Homo sapiens: one gene and its partners. The protein of the gene in region 4 interacts with the protein of the main gene of each other region in a pairwise test. Each region holds a gene or a part of one and is shown on either strand. Other genes may lie near its edges.

Region 1 (3,951 bases), on a different chromosome or scaffold from region 4:
CATTGGAACCCCAGCCAAAGGTTATATGTGTCTTCCATCTCACCCTTAAAGTCCGAATCCAGCTTCCCCACCTAAGTCCCTGACATTATGGCAGAAAGAGAGGATGCCTGGTTCTCCCAGAGATGCTTGAGCTGGAGTGACTATGATCAGGCTACTGTTGCAGGCAAGTACACTGGCTCAGTCAGCCACGCAGACAGCACCAGCAAACAAGCTGAGATCACAGAAGCACACTTATTCTGCAGGTCTCTGGAGATTTGAAGGGACTTTCTGGGATTGCAAAATCCTCCAGAAAGTAAAATAGTGACCTTCTGTGACTTCTGGCCTTGAATTCCATTCCTGATTTGAGTTGACTGGACACAGAGTTCAGCAGGTCTCAAGCACCATTATTTGTGCCTAGCTTCCAATGCAAATAGTGCCTTATTGGCAAAGGGGGCCGAAAGTCTCGCCAGCTTGGCTGTCTGAAGCTTATATAAGCTGCGGGGGCCTTGTGTGTGCACAGATCGCTCTGACAGAATAACAGGAATGGCTGGATGAACTTCCTGTATCTGAAAACTGTATGAGAGTTTGTTACCTATTTTGTCCCAATCTGTGCTCCTCACCTTGGCTGCAAGGCCCCGTGACCAGAACGATAATCTACTAGAACCAGCAGGGAACAGAGGCAGCCTGTTCTGGGCTATGGGCATAGACAGAATGGCACTACTCTGAAGTTTTCTGGTTGAGAGTGTAAATTATTTTTCCATTTTTTTCCCCAATGGTTAGGACCCTGGGTTTAAGTGAGGTGACCAGGTGGCTGGTGATGCCAACTTGGAGTTACTGTACTAGTAGCTATTATAGCAATTTTATATGATAATTAATAATAGATGGCATTTATTGACTGCTCACTAACTGCCAGGCACTGTGCTAAGGGCTTGACATACATTATCAAATTAATCATCTCAATGACGTTATGAGGTAAATTCTATTACGATCCTAAAGTGGCTCACACTTGCATTGGCAGCTACAACAATTATCTCCACTCCACAATCGCTTTCTCAATGTGACCTTGCCATTGTCTCATCAAGAAGTTGAATTTATTTCTCTCCCTGTTGAATCTAGGATAGTCTTGTGACTGCTTTGACCACTAGAATGTGGTATAAGTGATGTCCAGAGACTTTCGAGCCCAGGTGTTAAGAGGCCTGGTAGCTTCTGTGCTCACTCAGGTGCTATATCAGAAGTTTGACTATGTCAGGCTGTCATGATATGAGGAGGTCTAAGCTAGCTACACGGAGTGGTCACAGGGAGAGAGAAAAAGAGATGCACAATTGAGTCACCAGAGAAGCTAAATGAAGAAGCCATTTTTGGGTGTTCCAGCCCCAGCAGAGGCCACATGATACAGAGAAGAGTTATCCCTGCTGAATTCTGCCTAAATCACAGAATGAGAGAACAAGTGATTCACTGTTGTCTTAAGCTACTAAGACAGTAACTAGATATGATAGCCAAAATAGATCCTCACTTTACAAGTGAGAAAATGAAAGCTGTTCATTCACATAGCTAGTGAGTGAGGAGAGCACCCACCACGAAGTCTACCTCCTGACTCCCACAGCAGGGGTGCTCTCTCCCATCTGCCCCTCCCTCACATTTGTATCAGCTCCTCCACCGAAGCCACATTAACTCTTTGGAGGCAGGGACCATATCTCATTAGTTTTATGTCTCCAAAGCACTTGGTACAGTTCTAGGAACATAGCAAGTTCTCAAAATAATGCTAAGAGTCAGAAGAGCATGCTCATGTGCATCCACACATTGGATCCCCCTAGAAACACTGAGAAGTGGGCTGGACTGTGACTATCATACCCATTTTGCAGAAGAGGAAACTGTGGTTCAGGGATTTGCCTCTTTACCCAAGGGATAAATGGAGGAGCTGAGCCCTTCTGACTCTATTACTCTTGATTTTCCTCCCCTCAGATCCTCAGATCCTTTTCTTATACATGCTTGCACGGACCTACATCCTATCATGCGCCTCATTGACTCCAGGCCATCTCAGCTGCACAAGGATTACATGGACCAACCTTTGATTTGCACCAACGAAGCTGTAGTTAGAACAATGCAAATGACCTCCTGGAGGGGACATCTAAGAAAAGATGTTTAATACCCAAATAGAACTTCAATCCATTCCAGAGATCAGAGGGTGGATTGCTTCATTATTAATACATTTTATTATTTTAATATTTTAATAAATAATTAATAATGAAAGAGACGAGCTTGCAAATCCCAGTGAGTCTGAGAGCTTACTAGATGTCTCAGGTTGGGTTCTCCAGAAGCAGAGCCTGAGTTAGGGATCCTGGAACTCGCAAATCATTAAGGAGTACTCTCAGGAAAAGGGGGAGTGAGGAAAGCAGGACAGGGCAGAGGAAGGCACTAAGCGAGGATGTGGTCTCTGGAATCTGGCTACAGCCTGGTCCTATGGAGAGCTCTATAGCATGGAGCTAGCTCCATGTTGAAGCAAAAGGGCTGGGCTTTTAATTTTAAAGCCCCCTCTTAGTCACTGGCTGAGCCTTGGGGGGCAGGGCCTAACCTTCTGGGCCAGGTGTCCTCAGTGTGGGTAAGGGCAGGTCTCTGGAGCAGTGGGGCAGCTGAAAAGGGGCGGCTGCAGATGTTAACAGTCAACATTTACTGCAGCAGCCTGGTAAGAGATATTTCCGTGGGGCACTACAGTGTCTATTGCACCTGCTGTGATTCAGTATCTGATGATCCTTGGGAGTCAGAAGACATTTCAGGCCTCAAAACTCATATGCTGTGAGATGGGAATCCCCTGGAAACTAAGATCCATAATACTGGAATTTGACAGTAGAGAGTTAAAATTAGCACAAGGACACCAGGTCTTTCCTTGGCCCACTTACCAGGGCACGTAAGGATTCTGTCTCAGCCTGGAGGCTCTGGACTTGGCACGAAGTGTTGTGTAACTCCACCCTGAGGGCAGCTGCCAGCTTCTCCTCCTGGGTCTGGGACATGTGGGCCACCTCCGCCTGTTGCTGTGGAGAGTCAGGTCTCAGTGTGAGCGGTGATGATCAGAAATCTGAGCCCATCCTTCCTTCCCAGCCTTTCTAATCACCACTCCACTGCCTCTAACCAGAGGAAATACAGCTGTCACGTGGAAACATCTTTTTTTTTTTTTTTTTTTTGTTGAGATGAAGTCTCGCTCTGTAGCCCAGGCTGGAGTGCAGTGGTGCGATCTCAGCTCACCACAACTTCCTCCTCCTGGGTTCAAGCGATTCTCCTGCCTCGAGTAGCTGGGATTACAGGTACCCGCCACCAGGCCTGGCTAATTTTTTTTGTATTTTTAGTAGAGATGGGGTTTCACCATGTTGGTCAGGCTGGTCTTGAACTCCTGACCTCAGGTAATCCGCATGCCTTGGCCTCCCAAAGTGCTAGGATTACAGGCGTGAGCCACCACGCCTGGCTGGAAATGTCTTTTTTTTTAAACAGGTCCCTTCACCAACTTGTATACAAAAATGTATTTATTTTGAACATACGATGCCTGCAAATGAAATACAATTCAAAAGATTTCCTACAGACTATAAAGTCTCATTTTCTCCTGTGTCTTAATTATCCAGTTCTCTTGTTTCTAGTTTCTTATTCCTCTTTCCAGAAATAGTTTATATATTTATAAATAAATATGTATTGCCCCCCCCGTGCTTTGGTACTTAAAGTATCTTAGAAATTATTCTATATCAGTACATATTAGGTTGGTGCAAAGGCGATTGCAGTTTTCGCCACTACTTTCAATGGCAGAGACAGCAATTAATTTTGCACCAACCTAATAGAAATTGAGTACATTCTTTATAGCGGCTGCACAGTGTTGTCTTGTTTGGAAGGGCTGCAATGTATTTAGAAGTCTCTGCTGGTGGACACTCAGATTGTTTCTAGTCTTTCTTTCTCTATTACAAACAATGGTGCAAAGAAAAAGCTTTGATC
Region 2 (3,951 bases), on a different chromosome or scaffold from region 4:
TTCAAAGAACTCCCAAACTATTCACGCTGCCCTCCCTTTGACTATGGTTTGTTTGTGGCTGGGTAGGAACAGATGCATTTTTGGTTACAAGTAATTCACACGCACAAGTAATTGCATGAAGGTGTGTTTGGGAGTACTCAAAAACAGAAATCTTTCTGCAAGTCTTCAGAGGTGGAGAGATAGGGAGACAGTCTCTGAAAAGGATACACCTTATCCTTATCAGGAATCTTTGGGGAAATCCTCAATTGGGCCTCAAATAGGAACAGAGGTATTAGTAGATTATGACCACTGTTCTAAAACAAAGTGAGCTGTATAACTATGGATCTTGCTGGAGATACCTGAGTATCTGCCCATAGGGAGAATGAATATCCTATGTGCACCGCTTCCACTTAAGATTCCTTCATTTAGATTATTCTTGACAATTATTCGGGCCCCCTCAACTAAACAGGGGAGGAATTTGTTGTCCCTTTTCATCTCAGATAAAGCAAAGCTACAATAAGGTTTCACTCTGGGAGAAGACTGCATTTAAATTCTATTGAAAATCCATAATCTTGCCCTACATAAAAAATAAAAGAAGGTTGGGTGCAGTGGCTCATGCTTGTAATCCTAACTCTTTAGGAGTTGAGACAGGAAGATTGCTTGAGGCCAGGAGTTTGAGACAAGCCTGGGCAACACAGTGAGACCCTGTCTCTAAAAAATTTTAAAAAAAATTTAATTAATTAAAAAAGAAATAGAGGCCAGGAGCAGTGGCTCACGCCTGTAATCCCAGCACTTTGGGAGGCCAAGGTGGGCAGATCGCGAGGTTGGGAGATTGAGACCATCCTGGCTAACACGGTGAAACCCCGTCTCTACTAAAAATTACAAAAAATTAGCCAGGTGTGGTGGTGGGCACCTGTAGTCCCAGCTACTCAGGAGGCTGAGGCAGGAGAATGGTGTGAATCTGGAGGGCGGAGCTTGCAGTGAGCCGAGATCGTGCCACTGCACTCCAGCCTGGGTGACAGAGTAAGACTCCATCTCAAAGAAAAAAGAAATAGAAAAGAAGTCCAACTCCTCTTCTACTCTTCCCTCCTCCAGACTACTGACTTAGTCACAATGAGTAGGCACCACCTCTATCATCTGCCCCTAATCACTGAACCAGCTCCACCAGCTCTCACCATTCTGATAGCTTTGGACTGAAAGCTATGTAGATAACATCTAGAATGTGGACATAGCATCTGACAGGAAGTAAGTGGAATAGATGGCATGTAAGAGGACCAGTATCGATCTCTAGTATCTTCCAATTACCTTTTCATTGTGATAAAGCATAGCCTGGCTCAAACTGGAGTTACCATTCTCAGGTTTGGCAAACTTTAGAACACCCTCCCAGAATTAAGACCCTGCAGTAGAAAAGCAAGGCTGCCTGGCCCAGCTCTGGCATTGATATGGTTTGGATTTGTGTCCCCGTCCAAATCTCATGTCGAATTGTAATACCCAATGTTGGAGGAGGGGTCTGGTAGGAGGTGACTGGATCATGGGGGAGGACTTCCCCCTTGCTGTTCTCATGATAGTGAATGAATTTTCACGAGATCTGGCTGTTTAAAAGTGTGTAGCCCTGGCCGGGTGCAGTGGCTCAAGCCTATGATCCCAGCACTTTGGGAGGCCAAGGCAGGCGGATCACCTGAGGTTGGGAGTTCGAGACCAGCCTGACCAACATGGAGAAACCTCATCTCTACTAAAAATACAAAATTAGCCAGGCATGGTGGTGCATGCCTGTAATCCCAGCTACTCGGGAGGCTGAGGCAGAAGAATTGCTTGAACCTGGGAAGCAGAGGTTGCGGTCAGCCGAGATCGCGCCATTGCAGTCCAGCCTGGACAACAAAAGCAAAACTCTGTCTCAGGCTGGGAGCAGTGGCTCATGCCTGTAATCCCAGCACTTTGGGAGGCTGAGGCAGGCGAGTCACGAGGTCAGGAGATCAAGACCATGCTGGCTAACACGGTGAAACCCCGTCTCTACTAAAAAATACAAAAAAATTAGCCGGGTGTCGTGGTGGGCACCTGTAATCCCAGCTACTCAGGAGGCTGAGGCAGGAGAATGGTGTGAACCTGCAAGGCAGAGCTTGCAGTGAGCCAAGATCACGCCACTACACTCCAGCCTGGGTGACAGAGCGAGACTCTGTCTCAAAAAAAAAAAAAGAAAAAAAAACTGTGTCTCAAAAAAAAAAAAAAAGCGTGTAGCACCTTTCCTTTCTCTATCTTCCTCCTGGTCCACCACGTAAGACATGCCTGTTTCCCCTTTGCTTTCCGTCATGATTGTAAGTTTCCTGAGGCTTCCCCAGCCATCCTTCCTGTACAGGCTATGGAGCTGTGAGCCAATTAAACCTCTTTTCTTTATAAAATACCCAGTCTCAGGTGGTTCTGTATAGCAATGCGAGAACAGAATAACACAGCCATTAATTCAGTAACTGCAAAGTCCCGCCTCAGCTCTGGAAAAGGATTTGGAAAAAGGAACAGAGATAGAGGGAGACAGATTTCTAATGTAAAAGTCATCTCCCTTTCAATATTCATTACCTTAAAGCAGGGACTGATGGTTGAGGGCCAGCGCACAGGGTCCTTGAGAATGAGGCTGACCAGCTGAAAGATGCTTGTAGCATAGAAGGGAGGGGTGCCTACTGCCAGTTCATATAGTATGCAGCCAACAGACCAGAGGTCCGCTGTGTGGTCGTATGGTCGCTCCTCCACCAGCTCTGGAGACATATAGAGTGGTGTGCCTTTGATGGATGTCAGCACCATTGTATTGGTGCTCATAGCCCGGGCAAATCTGCAGAAGATAATGGGATGGAAATGGAAAGGGAAAAGATATTCTAAACCTGGTCACTACTACCTAACATAGAGATATCCCAAACCGGAGCAGAGGGAGCACCTTTGATTAGGTTCCAGAAGACCCAGCAGCAGTCCCAGCCTCTAGCTCCGGTTCTAAAATGAGGCCCAAATAAGTCAAGAGTATGGTCTAAGATTCCCTGTGGGGCCAGGCTCAGTGGCTCATGCCTGTAATCCCAGCACTTTGGGAGGCCGAGGTGGGCAGATCACCTGAGGTCAGGAGTTCGAGACCAGCCTGACCAACATGGAGAAACCCCATCTCTACTAAAAATATAAAATTAGCCAGGCATGGTGGCACATGCCTGTAATCCCAGCTACTCTGGAGGCTGAGGCAGTAGAATTGCTTGAATCCGGGAGGCAGAGGTTGTGGTGAGTGGAGATCGCACCATTGCACTTCAGCCTGGGTAACAAGAGTGAAACTCCATCTCAAAAAAAAAAAAAAAAAAAAAGATTCCGTGTGGAACTGGAAGCTTAGATGGATGCTCAGAATCTTTACCCAAAGTCACAGAGCTTGATGCCACCACCCTTGGCGAGGAGGATGTTCTGAGGCTTCATATCTCGGTGTAGGATGCGGTGGGAATGCAGATAGTACAGGGCTGACACCAACTGGGCAGCAATGGCCTGAACCTAGAAATTAAAGAGGTGGAAGAAAGAAAAAAAAGGTTAGAAACAGCAGCTGGCTGACAAGCCCAAAAATTTCTCTTAATATTACTGCTAATCTTTTCTTCCTTCCCTTTCTTGCAGAGCTTCACACTATTCTTTCTTAGTTATTGTTCCCCTTGTTTAATCACTCTTTCATTTGCTCATTCATTCATTCAAGAAAAATTTATTGAATCTCATTTACTATCTGCTTGACCATGGGCAAACTAAGGTGACAATCTATATAATAACACCATCTACATGGAGGATTATTGTGAGGACTGAGTTAAAGCATGCAAAATAATACTCAGAATGGTGCCTGGCACATAGTAAATATTCAATACACATTACCTGTTATTAAATAAGACAAAATGCCTTTTTTCAAGAAAAGTAGTCAGACAAACAAACAAGACAGATAAAACAAATATGGTGGTCGGGCGTGGTGGCTCACACCTG
Region 3 (4,693 bases), on a different chromosome or scaffold from region 4:
TTGCATCTATCCTAGGGTTTAATGTTGGTAAATGAGTCACTCTAGCATTTGCACAAGGCTCCTTAAGACTCCTGCAGCAGTCGACCAAGCCCAAGGACATAATTGAATCTGGAGAGTCCTGGGGCCTTGTTTTGAAAAAGACTTGAAATACACATAGGAAGAAAGACATAAAAATAAATGTTCACTTGTCTCTGCAAAAAAAAAAAAAAGAAAAGAAATATAAAAGCACCTGGCTTCAGCCACTTTTTCTGACTGCTCTCTCTTGTGAAGATGCCTGAGTACATGTAAAACAGGTACAATTTGTATTCTTTCCTCCTGTTAGTCTGTCTGCTGTCGATTCATTTTTTCTTATTTATTTTTGAGATAGGGTCTCCTAAGTTGAGCAGGCTGATCTCATTCTCTTGGACTCAAGGAATCCTCTTGCCCCGACCTCCCAGGCGCCAGGATTACAGGCGATTCTCAATCTGGGCCTAGATTCAACTAAAGAACCCACTAAGAGCTAAAAGGCGCGTTGGAGGTGACTCTGACTCCAGTACACAGGACATGTATGAAGTCACGTGGAGCACAGAGTAGGCCATCAGGAAGTGTGAGAAGGAGGTCTCAGGGGAGAGCTGGCGACTTTTACTGAGATAAAGACCCCAGGGGAAGCAGGTTGGGGTAAGAAAGGGATGAGCTGGGTTTGAGCCTAGGAGCCTTGGGCCATCCGCGCAGGGGCAGGACGTCAGGGAAGCCAAGAGCCTGGCTGCAGCTAGAGGGAGACAGGCGGTCGGGAGGCGTCCTGCACAGCACATGGGAGAAGCTCCTAGAAGAGAGGGCCCTCTGACTTTCTCAGCCTTACCCTATTCTCCCCGCTGCTTCCGCCATCTAGAAGCTCCCAGAATTTCAAGCTCCAAAAAGCCTACAATAGAGGAGGTTCTCCTGTATCCACTCCATGGCTTTTGTGAAAGGAAAATAAATCTTGGGACCCCCCCAAATCACTACGCTAAAGGAAAAAGTCAAGCTGGGAATTGCTTAGGGCCAACCTGCCTCCCAGTCTATTCAAAGTCACCCCTTTGCTGGCTGACACAGATGCATATCTGATTGCCTCCTTTGGAAACGCTAATCAGAATCTCAAAAGAATGCAACCGTTTGTGCCTCACCTTCTGTTTCTTGGAAGCCCCCTTCCTGCTTCACGTCTTCCTGCCTTTGCTTCAAGTTGCCCCGCCTTTCCAAACAGAACCAATGTACTTCTTACATACATTTATTGATGTCTCATGTCTCCATAAAATGTATAAAACTAAGCTATGCCCAGACCACCTTGGGCACATGTCGTGAGGACTTCCTGAGGCTGTCACGCGCGCGTCCTCAACCTTGGCAAGTAATTGAGATCTGTCTCGGAATTTCTGGGTTCACACTTTTTGCTCTCAACATTGGGAAGAGGCTGCTGTCGCCGTTTCTGAGGACAAAACGAGACAGTGATGGGCTGAAGTCCGATTATAAAAAGGTCCAGAGACGAAAACTAACTTCTGAGTTCACGAGGGCTGCCTTCCGCAGGGCGCTGCTTTGTTCCCGCAAACCCGGGCGGAAGCTCTGAGCTGCGCCGCCTCACCTGGCGGGGCCGGAGCATGCGCGGCTGGTTTTCAAGGCCGGCGCCTGTAGCCGCAACGGCCATTTTGGATTAGGGCAAGGAGAGAACTGGGCCTGGAGCGGGGGCGCGGGGAGGGGGGCGTCGTCGTGGGTACAATTGCGCAGGGGCAAAGGTCGAGAGGTCGCGCTGCCGCCGTTTTATTTGAAGACATCGTCCAGTTCTGACCATGGACTCGCAGCCATCGGCCCTTAGTTTCCATCCCCTCTAGTGGGCCTTCGGGGGCTCTACTGACGTCCCTCCTTCCCTTGGTACCGGGCCGGGGAAGTGTTCTCGGGCGCGGGAGGTTCCGCATGCCCAGGCCTGGCCAGGGGAGATGACCGATCCGTCGCTGGGGCTGACAGTCCCCATGGCGCCGCCTCTGGCCCCGCTCCCTCCCCGGGACCCAAACGGGGCGGGATCCGAGTGGAGAAAGCCCGGGGCCGTGAGCTTCGCCGACGTGGCCGTGTACTTCTCCCGGGAGGAGTGGGGCTGCCTGCGGCCCGCGCAGAGGGCCCTGTACCGGGACGTGATGCGGGAGACCTACGGCCACCTGGGCGCGCTCGGTGAGAGCCCCACCTGCTTGCCTGGGCCCTGCGCCTCCACAGGCCCTGCCGCGCCTCTGGGAGCTGCGTGTGGAGTTGGGGGCCCCGGGGCCGGGCAGGCGGCCTCCTCGCAGCGTGGGGTTTGCGTTCTTCTCCCCCAGGAGTCGGAGGCAGCAAGCCGGCGCTCATCTCCTGGGTGGAGGAGAAGGCCGAACTGTGGGATCCGGCTGCCCAGGATCCGGAGGTGGCGAAGTGTCCGACAGAAGCGGACCCAGGTGGAGTATCGGGTGCTCAGTCCCATGGGGACTTCTCTGTTCCTGTCCCATCCCGGTACCCTCTGCCACCTCCAGCTACCTGCTTAGCAGTTTCCTCTCTGAACTGCCTCCTCAACTGCGGCCAGGAGGCTGAGCCCCTGCCTGGCTCCGGGATGCAGCCTAGAAAGGGGCTGTGATGGGGGCTCTGGCCCTGCCATACCCGCCCCTGAGTCCTCACCTCTGCGTGGTCACTACACTCCGGGGACTTTTTTGTTTTGTTTTGTTTTAGAGACAGGGTCTCTGTTGCCCAGGCTGAGGTGCAGTGGCGCCATCATAGCTCACTGCAGTCTTGAACTCCCGGGCTCAAGCAATCGGCTCAACCAATCCTCCCGCGTGGGCCTCCAGAGTACCTAACACTGTAAAGGCACTCGCCACCACGCCTGGCTGGTTTTTTTTTTTTTTTTTTAATTAAAAAAATTTTAAAGAGGTAGAGGTCTTGGTGTGTTGCCCGAGCTGGTCTCGAACTCTAGCGATCCTCTATCTCGGCCTCCCAAAGCACTGGGATTACAGGCATGAGCCACTGCACCCGGCCTCTAGGTTCTGTTGACTCTACCTCCACATCATGACCCGCTCCAGTCGTTTTCCTGCACTATGGTTCCTATGCCCCCACATCCCGCCCTCCCATTTCCTTCCTTTAGTTCTTGCCTCAGCTTTTGCAGAGTATCCAGCCCCACTGAACTTGGCCATGCCCTCCTGGTTCTGCCTTTCTTGGTGCTGTTCCTTCTGCCTGGAATATCCCCAGGTGTCCGCTTCTTATTCCAGATCAGGCCCAGATGTTCACGTCATCTCTGCCCTTCCCCCGCGGTGACATTTCCCCAGCCCGGAGGCGGAATGGACTGTTCCCTCCCTCCAGGCTCTGTCTGGCTCTGCAGCCGAGGAACAGGTGTCACTCCTCCATCTCCTAGGAGCAGTCGGGGGTCCAGCAGGCCTGTCCCTGTCCACGCGGGCTGTGGGATTCAATGACCAGGATGAGCCAAGCCTGAACTCTCGCCTCCTTATCTTTCAGCAGATTCCAGAAACAAGGAAGAGGAAAGACAAAGGGAAGGGACGGGAGCCCTGGAGAAGCCCGACCCTGTGGCCGCCGGGTCTCCTGGGCTGAAGGCTCCCCAAGCCCCCTTTGCCGGGTTGGAGCAGCTGTCCAAGGCCCGGCGCCGGAGTCGCCCCCGCTTTTTTGCCCACCCCCCTGTCCCCCGAGCTGACCAGCGTCACGGCTGCTACGTGTGCGGGAAGAGCTTCGCCTGGCGCTCCACACTGGTGGAGCACATTTACAGCCACAGGGGCGAGAAGCCCTTCCACTGCGCAGACTGCGGCAAGGGCTTCGGCCACGCTTCCTCCCTGAGCAAACACCGGGCCATCCATCGTGGGGAGCGGCCCCACCGCTGTCCCGAGTGTGGTCGGGCCTTCATGCGCCGCACGGCGCTGACTTCTCACCTGCGCGTTCACACTGGCGAGAAGCCCTACCGCTGCCCGCAGTGTGGCCGCTGCTTCGGCCTGAAGACCGGCATGGCCAAGCACCAATGGGTCCATCGGCCCGGGGGCGAGGGGCGTAGGGGCCGGCGCCCTGGGGGGCTGTCTGTGACCCTGACTCCTGTCCGCGGGGACCTGGACCCGCCTGTGGGCTTCCAGCTGTATCCAGAGATATTCCAGGAATGTGGGTGACGGCCTAAAAAGTGACCATCTAGACATTGTGGGCGGCCCGAGATGGGCTCAGGGGCCCGAACCTCTGCAGCGGCCTGCAGGGAGGTCCCAGAATCCACCGCAAGAGCTGGCCTGGGGTGCGGACAGTCTGATCTTGGGCTCTCAGCAGCCTCTTCTGCCAGCACCTTGCTCCCCGCTGCCCTGGGCTCTCCAAGGCCCCCTTTGCTGAGGCAGGGCTGAGGTGAGAACCCCCCAGACCTCCATACAGGGAAGCAAAAGCTGTTTCTCCTCCCAGAGATGCTAAGAGGATTGAGGTAGAGAAGAACCTTGTTTTCTCTGTTGTCTTTTTCTTTTTACTTTTTTAATTTTTTGAGACGGAGTTTTGCTCTTGTTGCCCAGGCTGGAGTGCAATGGTGCGATCTCGACTCACTGCAACTTCCACCTCCTGGAGTCAAGCGATTCTCCTGCCTCAGCCACCCAAGTAGCTGGAATTACAGGCACCTGCCACTATGCCCGGCTAACTTTTTGTATTTTTAGTAGAGATGGGGTTTCACCATGTTGGCTAGGCTGGTCTCGAACTCCTGCCCTCAGGT
Region 4 (3,951 bases):
ACTGAAAGCTGAGACTTTGGTGAGCAAGGATCAAAGCAGAGAGGCAGAACCTGTACTCATGGCCCACTTCAGTCCTGCAACTGCCCTGCAGAGAGAAGTTGGGTGTTCAAGGAATTAAGTTGAGGGATGCCCTGGGACCTTGGATAACATCATTTGCTAAGTGTAAAATGCGATTTTTTTCCACATACTCATCTGGCCTCTGAGTAGTAAGTAAACAGAATACTCTGTGCTTGGGGACAGGGTTAATTTTATCTGACTCTTGGTAGTTCCTTGCAGTTGGAGTTTGAAGGTTAAGCTTCTCTCCTTGATGTGACACCTTGTGGGAGACTTGGTGAGAAAGAGGGCTGCAGGGATGCTGCAGATGGAGCAGAGAATGGTAAACACAGTTTTGCAGCTTGGTGCAGGATGGACCTAGGCTGTAGCGGGGCAGGTTTGGAAATTTGCAGCAGGAAACTGGAGCAGGTATGGGGCCTGTAGTGGCTCTCATCTGCTCTGGAGTTCTGTAGCTCTAATGGGGTCTTTCCAGGGATCTCTACTCTTTTCTTTCTTCCCTTGCCCCACAAACTTTTCTAAATCCAACCTGTTGTAGAATTAGTCAAGTGATTTGTTGAAATCAGTTAAGGCAGACATGGAGAGTTGTCCCTCTTCCTCTGTTGAGATGCTAAGCTATTTGTAGCAACTTTCTTAAAAGTTCTATAAATAACTTAGCATTTCCTAACAGAGAATAGGGATTTCTATCCACAAAGGCAAATAATATCCTGGTGAAAGAGGACGAAACAAGACCAACTGGTTTTAAATAGTGTTTAAATTGCCTGGTGCTGGCACCATTGACTGGGATCACTTGTAACATGTCTTTTATTTGGTTGTTAGCTTTCCACCAGCATGCTATCCCAGTTGCAAAGTGTACTCCATCGATGTCCCAGGGGCAGGTGAAGCTTTTGCAGTCTGTGGAATGGTCAGATGTTTGAGGCAGCTCAAATGCCGTGTTTGTGGGCTAAATGCAGACTTCCTTCCACTGATGGTTTCTATTTGGTCTATTTCTCTAGCTACCAAAATTTCTTATCCATTTTTTTTTTTTTTTTTTTTTTTAGACAAAGTCTCACTCTGTCACCCAGGCTGGAGTGCAGTGGCGCAATCTTGGCTCCCTGCAACCTCTGCCTCTGTTGTCCAGGCGATTCTCCTGCCTCAGCCTCTCAAATAGCAAATAGCTGGGATTACAGGCACCTGCCACCACACCTGGCTAATTTTTTGTATCTTTAGTAGAGATGGGGTTTCACCATGTTGGCCAGGCTGGTCTCAAACTCCTGACCTCAAGTAATCCACCCACTTCGGCCTCCCAAAGTGCAGAGATTACAGGTGTGAGCCACCGTGCCCGGCCAAAACAGGATTTTTTTTAAAAAGCACTGATTACTAAAGGGAACTCTTATTGTATTAAATCCTCAGAGTGAGATAATAACTGAATCTCTTCCGCAACTCCTTCTCAGTTGAATGGTGGGGGAAATTTAATGTGGTCCTGAGAGGCCCCAAATCATTTACCATCCCAGCTCTACCTTTGATGTGGCAGTCTCTCCTGGGATCATTTTCTGGGTGCAGATGCTCACAGGGCGCAGTTTGACTCCTTCTGCAGTTCTCTGTGCAGAACTAAGTTAAGCCTAAGTTTGGCCTTTGTCACTTGCAATGATAAGAGACCAGCTTTGGTCTATGGGGTGCAGGCTGGTGTCAGCACAGACTAGAGGCTTTGGGTTTGTTTAGAACAAACTGTAATTAACATAGGGCACAATATAGTCTTTCAGGAATTAGCTGTCTAAGAGGCTGGAGTGGAGCAGAGCCTCTGCTTCCAGGAACAATGCCCATTGGGGATGCTTGGGATGGTCTTTCAACAGAGGCCAATTGATTGACTGATGTACCTCTTGCCTTGAAGCTTGGCATGTATACAGGCACCACAGAAGAGAGACAATCCCTGCCAATCTCATTTGGGATCGGTAATTTGAAACAGGAGAAAGCAAAATGGGTAACCATCCAGTCTGTTTTATTTCTAAAAGAGGCCCAGTCTTTCAGGGGTAGGAGAAGGGAGCCTCTTGGGCTTGCAGAGTTGGGCAGCCTTAGCTGTCCATCCCTTAGTCTCATTCTGGAGAGATGTGGCCTCTGTTTAGTTACCTTTCACCCAGGTTCCTCCAGGATGGGTCCTTTAGGTTTACAAAGTAGAGCGCCTTAGCTTGACATTGTCTGATTTCCAGGCTTACACTAACACCCCTGTGTTTTGTTTTTTGCAGGTTGGGTGGCCCAGACCCCTTGGACTATGTTAGCATGTACAGGAATGTGGGGAGCCCTTCTGCTAACATCCCCGAGCACTGGCACTACATCAGCTTCGGCCTGAGTGATCTCTATGGTGACAACAGAGTCCATGAGTGAGTATATGCCACCTGTTCTTTATCCAGAGCCTTATTCCTGAGGTCTTCCTGAGCAGGGGTGACAATGTCATAGTGCTGTGAGCATGGTACTTCTCCGTGGAACCTCTGCATTTCTGCCCTCTGACTATATCTACTCATGCCAAGGTGGTCCTCGTTAACACCTGATTCCTGCTTATCTAGTGCAGGAAAGTCTTGATGAGCAGGATTCCCAAATCAGGTTTTTCTAAGCTTGCCCTGGAGTTTGGGCTCATAGGACAGGAAGGTAGCATGGTTATGACTCAGAACTTGGGCTGATGCCTCTGTGTCTACTTCCTTTTATTCCCCTAGCTTATTATGAAACATTTTAAACATAAAGCAAAGTTGGAAGGATTTTATAGTGAACACTCATATACCCACAACCCAGATTCTACTGTTAACTTTATACTTGCTTTATCACAAATCTGTTCATCTCTTATCCTTTATCTATCTTACCTACTTCCTTTTAACCTGTATTTATTTATTTTTTTATCTTAGTCTGCTTCCGTTTGTTGCCCTATATGCTTTTTTTTGGAGATAGGGTCTCACTCTGTCATCCAGGCTAGAGTGCAGTGGTATGATCATGGTTCACTGCAGCCTCGACCTCCCTAGGCTCAGGTGATCCTCCAACCTCAGCCTCCCGAGTAGCTGGGACGACAGGCAAGCACCACCATGCCCAGCTAATTTTTGTAATTTTTTTGTAGAGACAGGGTTTCACCATGTTGCCCAGGCTGGTCTCAAACTCCTGGGCTTAAGCAGTTCTTCCACCTCAGCTTCCCAAAGTGTCGGGATTATGGGTGTGAGCCACTGTGCCCAACTCAGAGTTCATACTGTTAATGACTGTATTCTCTTGCCTTTTGAGCAATTATATCATGTACTCCAATAAGCTACCAACTATTTTTTTTAGAAACAGAGTCTCGCTTTGTTGCCCAGGCTGGAGTGCAGTGGGGTGATCTTGGCTCACTGCAAGCTCCACCTGCCGGGTTCACGCCATTCTCCTGTCTCAGCCTCCTGAGTACCTGGGACTATAGGCACCCACCACCACGCCCAGCTAATTTTTGTATTTTTAGTAGAGACGGGGTTTCACCATGTTAGCCAGGATGGTCTTGATCTCCTGACCTCGTGATCTGCCTGCCTCGGCCTCCCAAAGTGCTGGGATTACAGGCGTGACGACTGTGCCCGGCCTGCTACCATCTATATTTTAAAAAGATTTTTTTTGGCTGGGCACAGTGGCTCATGCCTGTAATCCCAGCACTTTGTGGGGCTGAGGCAGGTGGCTCACTTGAGGTCAGGAGTTCGAGACCAGCCCGGCCAACATGGTGAAACCTTGTCTCTACTAAAAATACAAAAAATTAGCCAGGCATGGTAGCATGTGCCTGTACTCCCAACTACCCCGGAGGCTGAGGCACGAGAATCACTTGAACCTGGGAGGCAGAGGTTGCAGTGAGCTGAGATCGTGCCACTGTGCTCCAGCCTGGGCAACAGAGTGAAACTGTGTCTTAAAAAAATAATAATTAGGCTGGGT
Region 5 (3,951 bases), on a different chromosome or scaffold from region 4:
AGATCAAGCCATTGCACTCCAGCCTGGGGGACAAGAGTGAGACTTCATCTCAAAAAAAAAAAATTTTTTTTTCCTTGTTTGTTATTGGTTTCTCTAGGAACGGAACCAAGAAGTTCAATTCTATGAGAACAGAGAAGCTGCGGTCTTATTTCTTCCTATATTCCTAGTTCCTAGAGCAGGGAAGGCATTCAAAAAATATTTACTGAATGAACAGTAGAATCTCAACTTAAAATAAACAGAATCTGTCCCCCTCCTCATGTGAGGGATGAGAAGGAAAGGACAGTGAGAGGAACGGAAGAGTGGGAGCTCACAATAAACACCATCCATTTTTAATTCTTTTTCTTATGTTTCAAATATTTATTGGGGGTGCTGGGGACATGGCAGGAACCGAGATATTACCAGTCCCTGAACTCAGGTAACTGATAGAATTTGAGGGAGAGAGATAGATAAACAAACATATAAATATGTCGTTTAATACAAGCTGTGTCTTGAAGAAAAGGAGGTAGGGAGCGTGTGTGTGTGTGTGTAAAATCCAGTTTAGGGGCGTAGGTTGCTTTCTCTGGGGAAAGTAGCTGAGCTGAGACGTGGAGGAGAAGGGGTTAGCTGGTGAGAGGGGCTTTGGGGTGGGGGAGAGGCGTTCCTAGCCCAGGAAACGGCTTATGCAAATAGCTGTGGAGGGTGAGAGGTTTTCTGAGTCCATCCTAATGAGGGCAATGAGGAACCCTCAGAGGGTTTTCATGTTCTGTTTGCTTTTTTGAAGATTTTATTGTTGTTTTTGCTTTTGACAAGAACACACACACACACACACACACACACACACACACACACACACACACACAATTAAAAAGTAATCCAAACTATAGAGACAAGATATGGCTTTAGCATTCCTTCCCAGAGGCAGTCACTGGTGCCAGTAGCTTGCTTCCTTCCTGGGAATTTTCTACGCATATACAAGTGTATATTCTACACATGAGTAAAATCAATGCCTCATTTTGTTTATTAATTCATAATTATAATACTTATTATTTTTGAGATGGAGTCTCACTCTGCCTCCCAGGCTGGAGTGCACTGGCATAATCTCGGCTCACTGCAACCTCCACCTCCCAGGTTCCAGAGGGTCTCCTGCCTCCGCTTCCCAAGTAGCTGGGATTACAGGCATGCACCACCATGCCTGGCTAATTTTTGTATTTTTATTTTATTGTATTTTTATTTTTAAATTTACTTTATTATTATGACTCTTTTTTTGAGATGGAGTTTCGCTCTTGTTGCCCAGGCTGGAGTGCAATGGCGTGATCTCGGCTCACTGCAACCTCTGCCTCCCGGGTTCAAGTGATTCTCCTGCCTCAGCCTCTGGAGTAGCTGGGATTACAGGCGCCCACCACCACGCCTGCCTAATTTTGTATTTTTAGTAGAGACAGGGTTTTGCCATGTTGGCCAGGCTGGTCTTGAACTCTTGACCTCAGGTGATCCATCTGCCTCGGCCTCCCAAAGTGCTGGCATTACAGGCGTGAGCAACTGCACCTGGCCTATTTATTGTTATTATTGAGACAAGGTCTTCCTCTATTGCCTAGGCTGGTGTGCGGTGGCATGCTCATAGCTCACTGCAGTCTCCAAATCCTGGGCTCCAGTGATCCTCCTGCCTCAGCCTCCTGAGTAGCTGAGACTACAGGTGCGGACCACCATGCCTGACCAATTTTTGTATTTTTTTTTTTGTGGAGACAGCGTTTTGCCATGTTACCCAGGCTGGTCTCGAACTCCTGGGCTCAAGCAATCTGCCCACCTTGACCTCCCAAAGTGCTGAGATTATAGGTGTGAGACACAGCACCTGGCCATCTGCATTGTTTTAAAAATCACAAATGGTTGCGAGGTATACATACTGCCCAGCACCATACTTGTTTCCTTTGAATATATAAATATTATAATTTTATAATATTTATAATATATAATAACACAAATAATAATAAATATATATGGTTTGGTCATATACAATATATAAAATAACATTCACAAACACTTATTGTCAAAGTGCAATTAAATGGGAAAAAAAGAAAAACATTTGGCCAGGTGTGGTGGCTCATGTCTGTAGTCCTAGCACTTTGGGAGGCTGAGGTGGGAAGATCACTTGAGCCCAGGAGTTGGAGGCTGCAGTGAGCTATGGCAACGCCGCTGCACTCCGGCCTGGATGACAGAGGGAGACCTTGTCTCTTAAAAAACCCCAAAAAACAAATCTGATTCTCTGACGCATATATAATAAGCACAGGTCAAAGATTTATTTAAGTCATGAATGAAGGAACCAGCTGTTTCAAAGGAGAATTTGGGCCGGGTGCAGTGGCTCACGCCTGTAATCCCAGCACTTTGGGAGGCTGAGGTGGGTGGATCACGAGGTCAAGAGATTGAGACCATCCTGGCCAACATGGTGAAACCCCGACTCTACTAAAAATACAAAAATTAGCTGGGCGTGGTGGCGGGTGCCTGAGGTCAGGAGTTCGAGACCAGCTTGGCTAACAATGGTGAAACCTTGTCTTTACTAAGAATACAAAAAATTAGCTGGGTGTGGTGGCTCATGCCTGTAATCCCAGCTACTTGGGAAGCTGAGGCAGGAGAATAACTTGAACCCAGGAGGTGGAGTTTGCAGCAAGCCGAGATTGTGCCACTGCACTCCAGCCTGGGCGACAGAACAAGACTCCATTAAAAAAAAAAAAAAGGAGAATTTGATGAACAGAAGTTGATAGGTTTAGTCAGGAAAGACGGGCTGGAGAAAATTTGCCAGGTTAGATACAAAACTGGTTAAAGACCTACAGGACAATACAACTGTAACCTTTGAGGTTACCTTTTCTACCAGAGAGAAATCATTTGCAACCAAACTTCCTGGGGTTACCATTTACCTTGTCGAAGTCTAGACTCTAATCAATAATGAATAACAGACCGGGTGTAGTGGCTGACGCCTGTAATCCCAGCACTTTGGGAAGCCGAGGCAGGCGGATCACGAGGTCAGGAGTTCGAGACCAGCCTGGCCAACATGGTGAAACCCCGTCTCTACTAAAAATACAAAAATTAGCCGGGCATGGTGGCGCATGCCTGTAATCCCAGCTCCTCAGGAGGCTGAGGCAGGAGAATCGCTTGAACCCAGGAGGCAGAAGTTGCAGTGAGCCGAGATCGCGCCACTGCACTTTAGCCTGGGCGACAGAGCAAGACTCTGTCTCAAAAAAAAAAAAAAAAAAAAAGAATAGTAAATCAAATACAGGTACAGTCCCTTAGAATAGGGTCCCCAACCCCCGGTTTGTAGTCTGTTAGGCATGGGGTTGCACAGCTGGTGAGCAAGCATTACTGCCTGAGCCCCGCCTCCTGTCAGATCAGCGGTGGCTCTAGACTCTCACAGGAACGTGAACCCTATTGTGAACTGCACGTGCGAGAGATCTAGGTTGTACACTCCTTATGAAAATCTAAGGCACTGCCCACTCCCATCCATGGAAAAATTATCTTCTACGAAACCAGTTTTTGGTGCCAAAAAGGTTGAGGACTGCTGCCTTGGAATATGAAGCAAACTTTGGGTGGGTCTGTTAGACAAGACTCCCAGATGACTTGGAAATGGCATGCTGTCAGCTTTTTTTGTCTTATTGCCGAGCCTAGAACTTTTTTTAATTTTTATTTTTTTTGAGATGAAGTCTTGCTCTTGTCTCCCAGGCTGGAGTGCAGTGGCACGATCTGGGCTCACTGCAACCTCTGCCTCCCGGGCTCAAGCGATTCTCCTGCCTCAGCCTCCAGAGTAGCTGGGATTACAGGCGCCTGCCACCACGCCCGGATAATTTTTGTATTTTAGTTGAGACGTTTCACCATGTTGGCCAGGCTGGTCTCGAACTCCCGACCTCAGGTGATCCGCCTGCTTTGGCCTCCCAAAGTGCTGGGATTGCAGATGTGAGCCACCACACCTGGCCCCTAGAACAATTTTTT
Region 6 (4,567 bases), on a different chromosome or scaffold from region 4:
TGAGACTATGTTACACACAACTAGACAATTTTTTGGATTCTCCCAGCGTCTTAAATATTTTCTTGCTTACCAACAACTTCTTAACCTGTAGGTGAAACACAATGAAGGCACTAAATCCGAAACCACGAAATTTGGAAGCAGACCTAGGCTTGTACTCTGGCATTACTACTTACTACTTTCGTACCTTGTGGTAGATACTTTAACTTCTCTGAATCTGCTTTCTCAAGTATAAACAATGAATAACAATACCTGTCTGGAGTCATGAATGAAGATGGAATGAGATTACACTGCCTGGAGCATTCTGAGTGCTGAATAAATGGTGGTTTCATTCTCAGCTCTCCTTCAGCAATCCTGATCTGACGCTCCTGTGACAGACATTTGTCCACGTAAATACGGTATGTTTTCTGATTCTTCCTAGCAACTTCCTTTATAAGTAATCCACCCATACATTTACATGTTAATTCTAACAGAGTCCATAATAACGAGTGAGCTATTTTAACAGTGTCAGCAGAGACAGATTAAAGAATTGATGAAAAGTAATTCCGTGCAATTTAGGGATTACTCATCTTATTTTCACTAACAGATGACTGCCATCTTGTACAGATGTATTTCGCATACAGAAAATTACATTTAATCACAATATTGTTTGGGTGGGTTAGTCTGTAACTTGAAGTAAAATGTATTGACAGGATAAAATGAAAGCTTTGAAACAGTGCAAAGGTGGAAAAACGAGGTTGAGCGAGAAGCAGGAATTACCAATCTTCATGGTTAGAAGATTCATTAAACGCATTTGCCTTCAAATATTAGATTCTCTACAGAATGGTGGTAAAAAGGCCAGTGAGAAATTAACAATAGTGAGAACACCAGAGTAGTGTTAAACCACCTTGATAATCAGATGGCTCGGAGCAGTTTAAAGCCCTCACGAAAGAGGATTTTTTTTTACCTTCCCTGTCTCCCGCAATTAATGCCATTTCTAAAAGAGAAAATATGTCACACATCAGCGCTCAATAGGCTGACATGCTCCTCAAAACGTTCCTTAAAAAAAAAAAAAAAAAAAAAAAAAAAAAAAAAAAACTTGTGTGCAAATATTTCAGATGCCATTCCACCCCAAACCCGTTCCAAAACCTAAAAATCACTTTCAAGCCAAACTCACGGCTCGTTGGTGATTCACAGCCAGGATCTCGAGGCAGGAACAATAGTGCACTCACCCCGCATCCTCCTGAATCAGCCATTTCGGTAAGAAGATCCAGAAGCACTAGCAGTTTGTTTGTAATTTGTTTACAATTTAAAAGCAAGTTATTTCCCAAAGGAAATCTAAGCAATTGTTAAGTGTTTTACATTACGCAGTCGCCAATTTTACAATTCATATCATGAACCCACTTTGCCCTCCGCCCGCGTCCCTCTCGGAGCCCACGACGCTCAGCAGTCGAGCCCTGGCACCGCACAGCCCGTAGGAGCCTGGAGCGCTCCGCGTTTTGCCCCAATTTCCCTACTTGGGGGTCTCCGCTACAGCTAGAGCGGTCGGCCAATGGAGACCTTCTCCCGCACTCGCCGTCCCGCCTTCCAGTTCCACTGAAGCCAATAAAAAGGGCCGTCTGGAGACAGAAGCCAATGGGAGCTCGGGTAGAGTCATCATGATTGGCTGCGGTCTCTTCGTAGTGCAGTCTAGGCCTCCGCCTCCGTTACCCTGGAGCCCAGGTTACCGCCGCTGCCACCCAGGAGCCCCGATCCTCGCCTCTGTCCCATCCTTGTGTTCAAACCTCCCGCATCTCGGCAACCTCGGCACCCGCCCGGCAGCCTCCGCAGGAACCAGGCACCCGCTCTTTGGCGGTCAGACGCCGAGGCCCCAGCTGGGAGTTTGGTCCTAAGAGGGAAGGCAAGGAGGCGGGACGCCGCATCGGCTCTGCTGAAGAGCCTGCGGGTTGGAGGTGGGCTTTGAAGTGGGCGTGGAGACGGCGGGGGAGGTGGAGGTGCGAGGTGAGGCTGGGTTGAAGCGTCTGGTAGCTAGTGAAGGGGCGTTCGTGGATGGGGGCCTGCGGGTGGTTCTTAAAGCAGGGAAGATGAAGGGATTAGGGATGGGGGAGGATGTAGGGACCGCGAGGAGAAGGAAGACCTAGGAAAATGAGTAAAGAGCTCGGCTTCTGAGAGGGTCCCGAGGAAGGGAGGTTGACCGGCACTGGGGGGACTGGGAAGTTAGGAGGAGAGGAGCTGGGAAAGGGTATTTACTTCCTGGGACCGAGAAGAGAAGAAAGGGAGCAAGCGGATCTAGAGAAGTGGTTGTTATTAAAACAAACAAAACAAAAACCCCGGAGGCCCGTGGAGACTCAAGACTAGAGAGGAGGGGCAGGGCCAAGGGCCAAGACGGAAAAGGAGGCTTTGGTAGCTCTCGGATAATAATAGATGTGTTATTATTAAAACTGTGGTTAGAGTGGAAAGCCGTACTTGTCCAGGCTGTGATACTTCTATACATCCTTCAGGGATGGGATGAGAGGAGTAAAGATGGTTAGAAATAAAAGAAAAAAGAAAGTGCCTTTTTGGCATACTCGAGTTGGAGTCGGTACTCAGATACGTGATGTTTACGTTAGATAGACCGTGGGATAGTGTTTAACAGTGAAGAGCCCTGGTCCAGTTCATCTGATATAAACCCCTTTTTTGTTCACTTTGTTCTTTGGAAAGTATACTTGGGCACATACATATTTATTCCCCTCCTTTATCTTCACGTTAAGAACTTGCATTAGAGATATCTTTGCAATCAGAAGTCATCATTTAGTTTTTGGCAGAGGGAGTGGCTATATGTGTTTTAGAATGGTAAAACCGATGTTTCCAGTTCTTTACTCATTCCCTCTTTCTTTTGCATGGTTATTTTAATCTATGTTTTTTTCCAGTTGTTCCACATTTAAATTCTATATTACCATTTTAAATATTTCACTTTGTGATTTCCCATGTTAGCTAGTATGTTTATCCAAATAAGTTATAGGAAATAATAGTTTGTTTTGATTCTCTAAGTTGACAAAGTATCATTTTAAATATCAAAAAGTAGTTTGTGACTTTGGAAAAGAGATTTTTCTTCTTTTGTGAGTCACATCTCTTCCGTTACACATATTGTGGAACTATAATTCTGTAGGACACAATGGAAGCCCATTAAATAAAGATGCTACCCTTCTCTTGGGTTCTTCATCTGCCTGTCATTCTTCAACTCCTTTGTGGGATCTTCTTCCTCGGCCCACCATATTTCATTATTGTTTTTCCCAATAATCCAGTCTTCAGTCTTCCGTCTTCTATTTTTTACTCTGTGTTCTTGGCTGTGTTCTTCCTCTCCTTTGGCTTACACTATTTGTGTTTTATTAACACTCTCCCAATTTTTTATTTCTGATCTGGAACTTTTGAGTTACTGTCAAACTTTTGTAGCTAATTTTTGGTATTTCCACATAAATTTCCTATCCATAGGCATCCCAAACTCAGTATGTCCAATATTGAACCCATCACCTTTCCCTGCCAAAGCTGTCCTGCTTGAATACCACATTCTCCTAATTTTGCAAGCCCAAAACTTTGGAATTTACTCAAGTTCTTCTCTATTCTCAGACTTCATATTTAATCTGTCACCAAGTGTAGTTTATCTTACTTGAAAAACATTTCTGGAATCAGTTCCGTACTCTGTATCTCTAGTTATACTACTTTCAAAACACTGTCTGTCAGTGATTATCGAGACCAATTGATATTCTTCCTCCAGCTTTCCTGCCCTCCAATTCTTAGATTGGAGATGGATCCTTGCAAATGTCAGATCTGATAATATTAACCCTACTGAAGAGCCTTGGTTTCCAACCAACTTATTAATGACATAGAGATTCTTCTTGTGATATTATCTTCCACCCGATCCAGTCCCACTTATTATTACTTTAGCACTACTCCCCAGCCAGTGCCATCCTTTTAAACTAGCATTGTCCATTTGAAATAGAATGTGAGCTATATCCATTTTTTTCAGTAGACACACAATAAAATACAGGTGAAATTTTAATGTATTTTTAAGTCACATATATCCAGAATATTATTTTAGCATATGTCAATGTAAGAAAGATTATAGAAGAGCTATTTTATGGTCTGTTTTATGTACTAAGTTTTCAAAATTCCACATGTATTTTACACTTGCCGCATATGCCAATTCTGAATAGCTACATTTGAGGTGCTCAGGAGCCACTGTATTGGACAGCACAGTTGTAAAGTATTTGCAGTTTGGTGATATGCCATGCTTATCTAATGCCTTTTACTTTTGCAAATGCTGCATCCTCTTATTGAGACAGGGTCGTACTTCACTGTCTTCTTTTTCTAACCTCATTTACCCCCCCACTTTTCAAACACACACATCCATGAAATTATAATTGTGCTTAACCTCTGCTAATACCGTAAGACTCAATTTAGGCATTATCTCCTCTAGAAACCTTCTCAAACTCCCTCTGTCCTCTAATCTTAGTTCTGAGTTTACTAAGCTTTCTCTGCTTCCTTTTATCATTAGTACTTATAGACTGTCGCATTATTTTTTTTTCCTCTTGGTTGGGAATTACTTAACGGT
Region 7 (3,951 bases), on a different chromosome or scaffold from region 4:
AGATCTCACAGTTATGGGCTCCTAAAAGTGGGTAGAGCCTGGTTAGGGGCCAGGGACTCCGGGTAAATGGGTTCAGGGTTCTCAGAATGAGGCGGTCCAGAAGGTCAGGGTCACGGTGTATGGGGAGCAGGGTCGGGGGCTCGCCGCGTACCGGGCGCGTAGTGGCCATAGGTGGCGTTGCGCAGCTCCTCCCAACCCACACGCCCGTCGCGGTCCGTGTCGTACGTGTCCCAGGCCGCGCTCACCGAGTCCCGTATGTGCCGCTGCTGCGTGTGCGCGATCCACGCGCGAAGCTCGGCCAGCGACACCCAGCCGTCGCCGTCCCCCGCGCGGTCCATGCGGTCCACGATCCGCCTAGAAGCCGGGGCGGGCACACGTCAGGCTCTGGTCCCGCCCCCAGGCCCCGCCCCTCGCACGGGCCACGCCCCCTGGGACACTTCGGATCCGGGGCTGAAAATACAGTCCACGGTCCGCGGGCTAACTGGGGAGGGGCGCGGGTCAATTTCGGGACCAAGCCCACCGGAGGACCCTACCCCTCAGCCTAGGGTCCACCCCCAGGTCGAGTCACGCCCTTCTCCAGAACGAGCGGGCCTGCTGGGAGCACTGCGGGGGAGGGACCTACTACGATGCAGGGCCACCCTCTCCGCGCCGGCCCCGCCCTCGGCCTGCACGTGCTGCACCTCTCGCTGGGCCGAGCTGGGGTGGTGAAGGGGAGCGCGGCGTCGCACTGTGACCCTTGCCAAGGGGGCCCTGTTGCAAGATTGACTCTGAACCCAGACAGCCACGGCCACACCCCCGATCCCCCGCTGTCTCAGGCCCCGACCCGCCCCATGCCCCTCCCCCTTACCAGGCTGCGCGTGTCAATTTCAGGCTCCTCTCCCTCCAGCCCTGCCCTGTGCTGAGCCCCGTGGCTTTCCCCTGCCTGCTCCCGGCTGAATCAGGCACTGCCTGAGGACCATCACCCGCAACCCCGGGGGCTCAGTCTCCCTCTGCCCCTCCCCATGCTCCTCCGGGCTCCTGTGCCCCTCCCTGTCGCATGTCAAGCCACTTTAGGTTCCATCTCTCCCCTTCTCTTGGGCCACGCCTATCAGCTCTCGGGCCCCTCTCCTCTCCCTTGGTGACGCCTTGCCAGGCCGGTCCTCTCCCAATCTCTAATTAACAGAGACTACCTGGAGCCCTCCTCCCTGTCACCGTCCCTAGGCCCCCGCGGCCCCCTCCCTAAAGTCGAAAATCCGAGACAGCAGAGCCCTCTCCAGGCCTGCCTGAGTCACCGCCCCACCTCCCGCACCAGGCGGTCTCTGCTCCAGTCTGTCTAGGGCCCCACTCTGTCCCCGGAATCACACCCTTCTCTGAGGTTCCTGGTGTTGTTAAGCGCTTGGGCTCCACAGCCAGACATTTTAGGTCCAAATCCAGCCACTTCCTCTTACTGGCTGTGTGACTGTGGGCAAGTGACTTAACCTCTCTGTGTCTCAGTTACCCCTCTGTAAAACGGAGGAAGAAAAAACGGTACCTACCCCAAAAGGGCGGTTGTGGGGAATAAATGAGTTAGGCCATGTAAAGCACTTAGGACAGGACAGGCGCGGTGGCTCACGCCTGTAATCCCAGCACTTTGGGAAGCCAAGACAGGCGAATCACTTGAGATCAGACGTTCCAGACCAGCCTGGTCCACATGGTGAAACCTTGTCTCTACTAAAAATACAAAAATTAGCAGGGCATGGTGGCACGCACCTGAAATCCCAGCTACTCTGGAGGCTGACGCGGGAGAATTGGTTGAATCTGGGAGGTGGAGGTTGCAGTGAGCCGAGATAGTACCACTGCACTCCAGCCTGGGCAACAGAGCGAGACTCCGTCTCAAATAATAATAACAATAATAGGCCGGGCACGGTGGCTCACGCCTGTAATCCCAGCACTTTGGGAGGCCGAAGTGGGCAGATCACCTGAGGTGAGGAGTTCCAGACCAGCCTGGCCAACATGGTGAAACCGTCTCTACTAAAAATACAAAAAGTAGCCGGGCACAGTGGTGGATGCCTGTAATATCCACTACTCGGGAGGCTGAGGCAGGAGAATTGCTTGAACCCAGGAGGCGTAGGTTGCAGTGAGCCGAGATCGTGCCACTGCACTCCAGCCTGGGCAACAGAGTAAGACCTTGTCTCAAAAACAAACAAACAAACAAAAAACACTTTGGAGGCCGAGGAGGGCGGATCACAAGGTCAGGAGATCGAGACCATCCTGGCTAACATGGTGAAACCCCGTCTCTACTAAAAATACAAAAAATTAGCCGGGCGTGGTGGCAGGTGCCTGTAGTCCCAGCTACTCGGGAGGCTGAGGCAGGAGAATGGCGTGAACCTGGGAGGCGCAGCTTGCAGTGAGCCGAGATCGCGCCGTTGCACTCCAGCCTGGATGACAGAGTGAGACTCTGTCTCAAAAAAAAAAAAAAAAAAAAAAAGGCCAGGCGCCATGGCTCACGCCTGTAATCCCAGTGCTTTGGGAGGCCGAGGTGGGTGGATCACGAGGTCAGCAGATCTAGACCATCCTGGCTAACACGGCGAAACCCCGTCTCTACTAAAAATACAAAAAAATTAGCTGGGCGTGGTGGTGGGCGCCTGTAGTCCCAGCTACTCGGGAGGCTGAGGCAGGAGAATGGCATGAACCCGGGAGGTGGAGCTTGCAGTGAGCCGAGATCACGCCACTGCACTCCAGACTGGGAGACAGAGCGAGACTGCGTCTCAAAATAATAATAATAATAACAATAATAAAGCACTTAGGACAATGCCTGGCATTGCCATTAGTGCTAAGCTAAATGTGCTAACCTGTCACTGCCCTTCTTCCTCCATTTCTCCTTCATGCATGCCCATCCAAGCACAATCTCCCAGCCAGCAGTCCTGGGGACCACTGCCACTGTCTCCACCCTGATCTGACCACCATCTTGTCTTGTCTTCCACCTGGACTATCGCAGTCGCTTCCTCACTGGGCTCCCTGCTTCTTGCTCCCTACAGTCTGTTCCCCACCTCGCAGCCAGCAGGATTCTCTCAAAACCTAAGTCAGCTCATGCCCTCCCTCAGTTCTACTCTCAATTGGAGAAAAGCCTAAATCTTCATCGTGGCCTAAAAGGCTTTGCATTGCATGATCTGACCCCCTTTGCATGGTCTCAGGCAATCCGCCCGCTTTGGACTCCCAAAGTGCTGGGATTGCAGGCGTGAGCCACTGCACCTGGCCCTCTCTCTTTTTGAGACAAAGTCTTGCTCTGTTGCTTAGGCTGGAGTGCAGCGGCATGATTTTGGCTCACTGCAGCCTTGACCTCCCAGGCCCAAGTGATCCTCCCTCCTCAGCCTCCCTAGTATCTGGGACTACAGGAGCACGCCACCATGCTGGGCTAATTTTTGTATTTGTTTTGTAGAGGCGGGGTATCACTATGTTGCCCAGGCTGGTCTTGAACTCCTGGGCTCAAGTGATCCCCCAGCCTTGGCCTCCCAAAGTGCTGGGATCACACACATGAACCACCATGCTGAACCCCTTTGCTCCTTCTCTGCCCTCACCTCCCACTCTCTCCCCTTTCTCACTGAGTTCCAGCCACACGGGCCTCAGAACTGTTGCTCTGACACTCCAAGCCCACTCCTGCCTCAGGGCCTTTGCACTTAACTGTTCTGTCTGCCTGGAATGCTATTCACTCCGATACCCACATGGCTCAAATACCACATACCACCTTCTCATGGAGGCCTTGTCCAAGTTCCCTGTTTAAAATTGCAGCTCCAGCCGGGTGCGGTGGCTCATGCCTATAATCCCAGCACTTCGGGAGGCCGAGGTGGGCAGATCACCTGAGGTCAGGAGGTCGATACCAGCCTGACCAACATGGAGAAACCCCATCTCTACTAAAAATACAAAATTAGCCGGGCATGGTGGTGCATGCCTGTAATCCCAGCTACTCGGAAGGCTGAGGCAGGAGAATCACTT

The links.
Region 1: the proteins of SUFU (region 4) and BFSP2 interact in binary tests that used the Homo sapiens proteins (3 or more experiments, as listed by UniProt).
Region 2: the proteins of SUFU (region 4) and STK36 interact in binary tests that used the Homo sapiens proteins (3 or more experiments, as listed by UniProt).
Region 3: the proteins of SUFU (region 4) and ZNF747 interact in binary tests that used the Homo sapiens proteins (3 or more experiments, as listed by UniProt).
Region 5: the proteins of SUFU (region 4) and CRX interact in binary tests that used the Homo sapiens proteins (3 or more experiments, as listed by UniProt).
Region 6: the proteins of SUFU (region 4) and LCA5 interact in binary tests that used the Homo sapiens proteins (3 or more experiments, as listed by UniProt).
Region 7: the proteins of SUFU (region 4) and RCN3 interact in binary tests that used the Homo sapiens proteins (3 or more experiments, as listed by UniProt).

What each region holds. Positions count from the first base shown.
Region 1 is NC_000003.12:133,465,885-133,469,835, reverse strand, and holds part of BFSP2 (phakinin), read right to left. Parts: intron 3,009-3,951; coding exon 2,877-3,008; intron 1-2,876.
Region 2 is NC_000002.12:218,674,875-218,678,825, reverse strand, and holds part of STK36 (serine/threonine-protein kinase 36), read right to left. Parts: intron 3,484-3,951; coding exon 3,353-3,483; intron 2,798-3,352; coding exon 2,548-2,797; intron 1-2,547.
Region 3 is NC_000016.10:30,531,927-30,536,619, reverse strand, and holds the start of ZNF747 (zinc finger protein 747), read left to right. Parts: upstream 1-1,761; 5' UTR 1,762-1,940; coding exon 1,941-2,169; coding exon of another isoform or gene 2,170-2,309; coding exon 2,310-2,423; intron 2,424-3,468; coding exon 3,469-4,121; 3' UTR 4,122-4,693.
Region 4 is NC_000010.11:102,506,896-102,510,846, forward strand, and holds part of SUFU (suppressor of fused homolog), read left to right. Parts: intron 1-1,383; exon of another isoform or gene 1,384-2,011; intron 2,012-2,273; coding exon 2,274-2,408; intron 2,409-3,951. UniProt on the Homo sapiens protein: Negative regulator in the hedgehog/smoothened signaling pathway. Down-regulates GLI1-mediated transactivation of target genes. Down-regulates GLI2-mediated transactivation of target genes. Part of a corepressor complex that acts on DNA-bound GLI1.
Region 5 is NC_000019.10:47,828,104-47,832,054, forward strand, and holds part of CRX (cone-rod homeobox protein), read left to right. Parts: intron 1-3,951. UniProt on the Homo sapiens protein: Transcription factor that binds and transactivates the sequence 5'-TAATC[CA]-3' which is found upstream of several photoreceptor-specific genes, including the opsin genes.
Region 6 is NC_000006.12:79,534,526-79,539,092, reverse strand, and holds the start of LCA5 (lebercilin), read left to right. Parts: upstream 1-1,662; 5' UTR 1,663-1,928; exon of another isoform or gene 1,929-1,977; intron 1,978-4,567. Other genes in the region: SH3BGRL2 (SH3 domain-binding glutamic acid-rich-like protein 2), read right to left, coding at 250-365, 1,209-1,232. UniProt on the Homo sapiens protein: Involved in intraflagellar protein (IFT) transport in photoreceptor cilia.
Region 7 is NC_000019.10:49,530,596-49,534,546, reverse strand, and holds part of RCN3 (reticulocalbin-3 precursor), read right to left. Parts: intron 355-3,951; coding exon 152-354; intron 1-151. UniProt on the Homo sapiens protein: Probable molecular chaperone assisting protein biosynthesis and transport in the endoplasmic reticulum.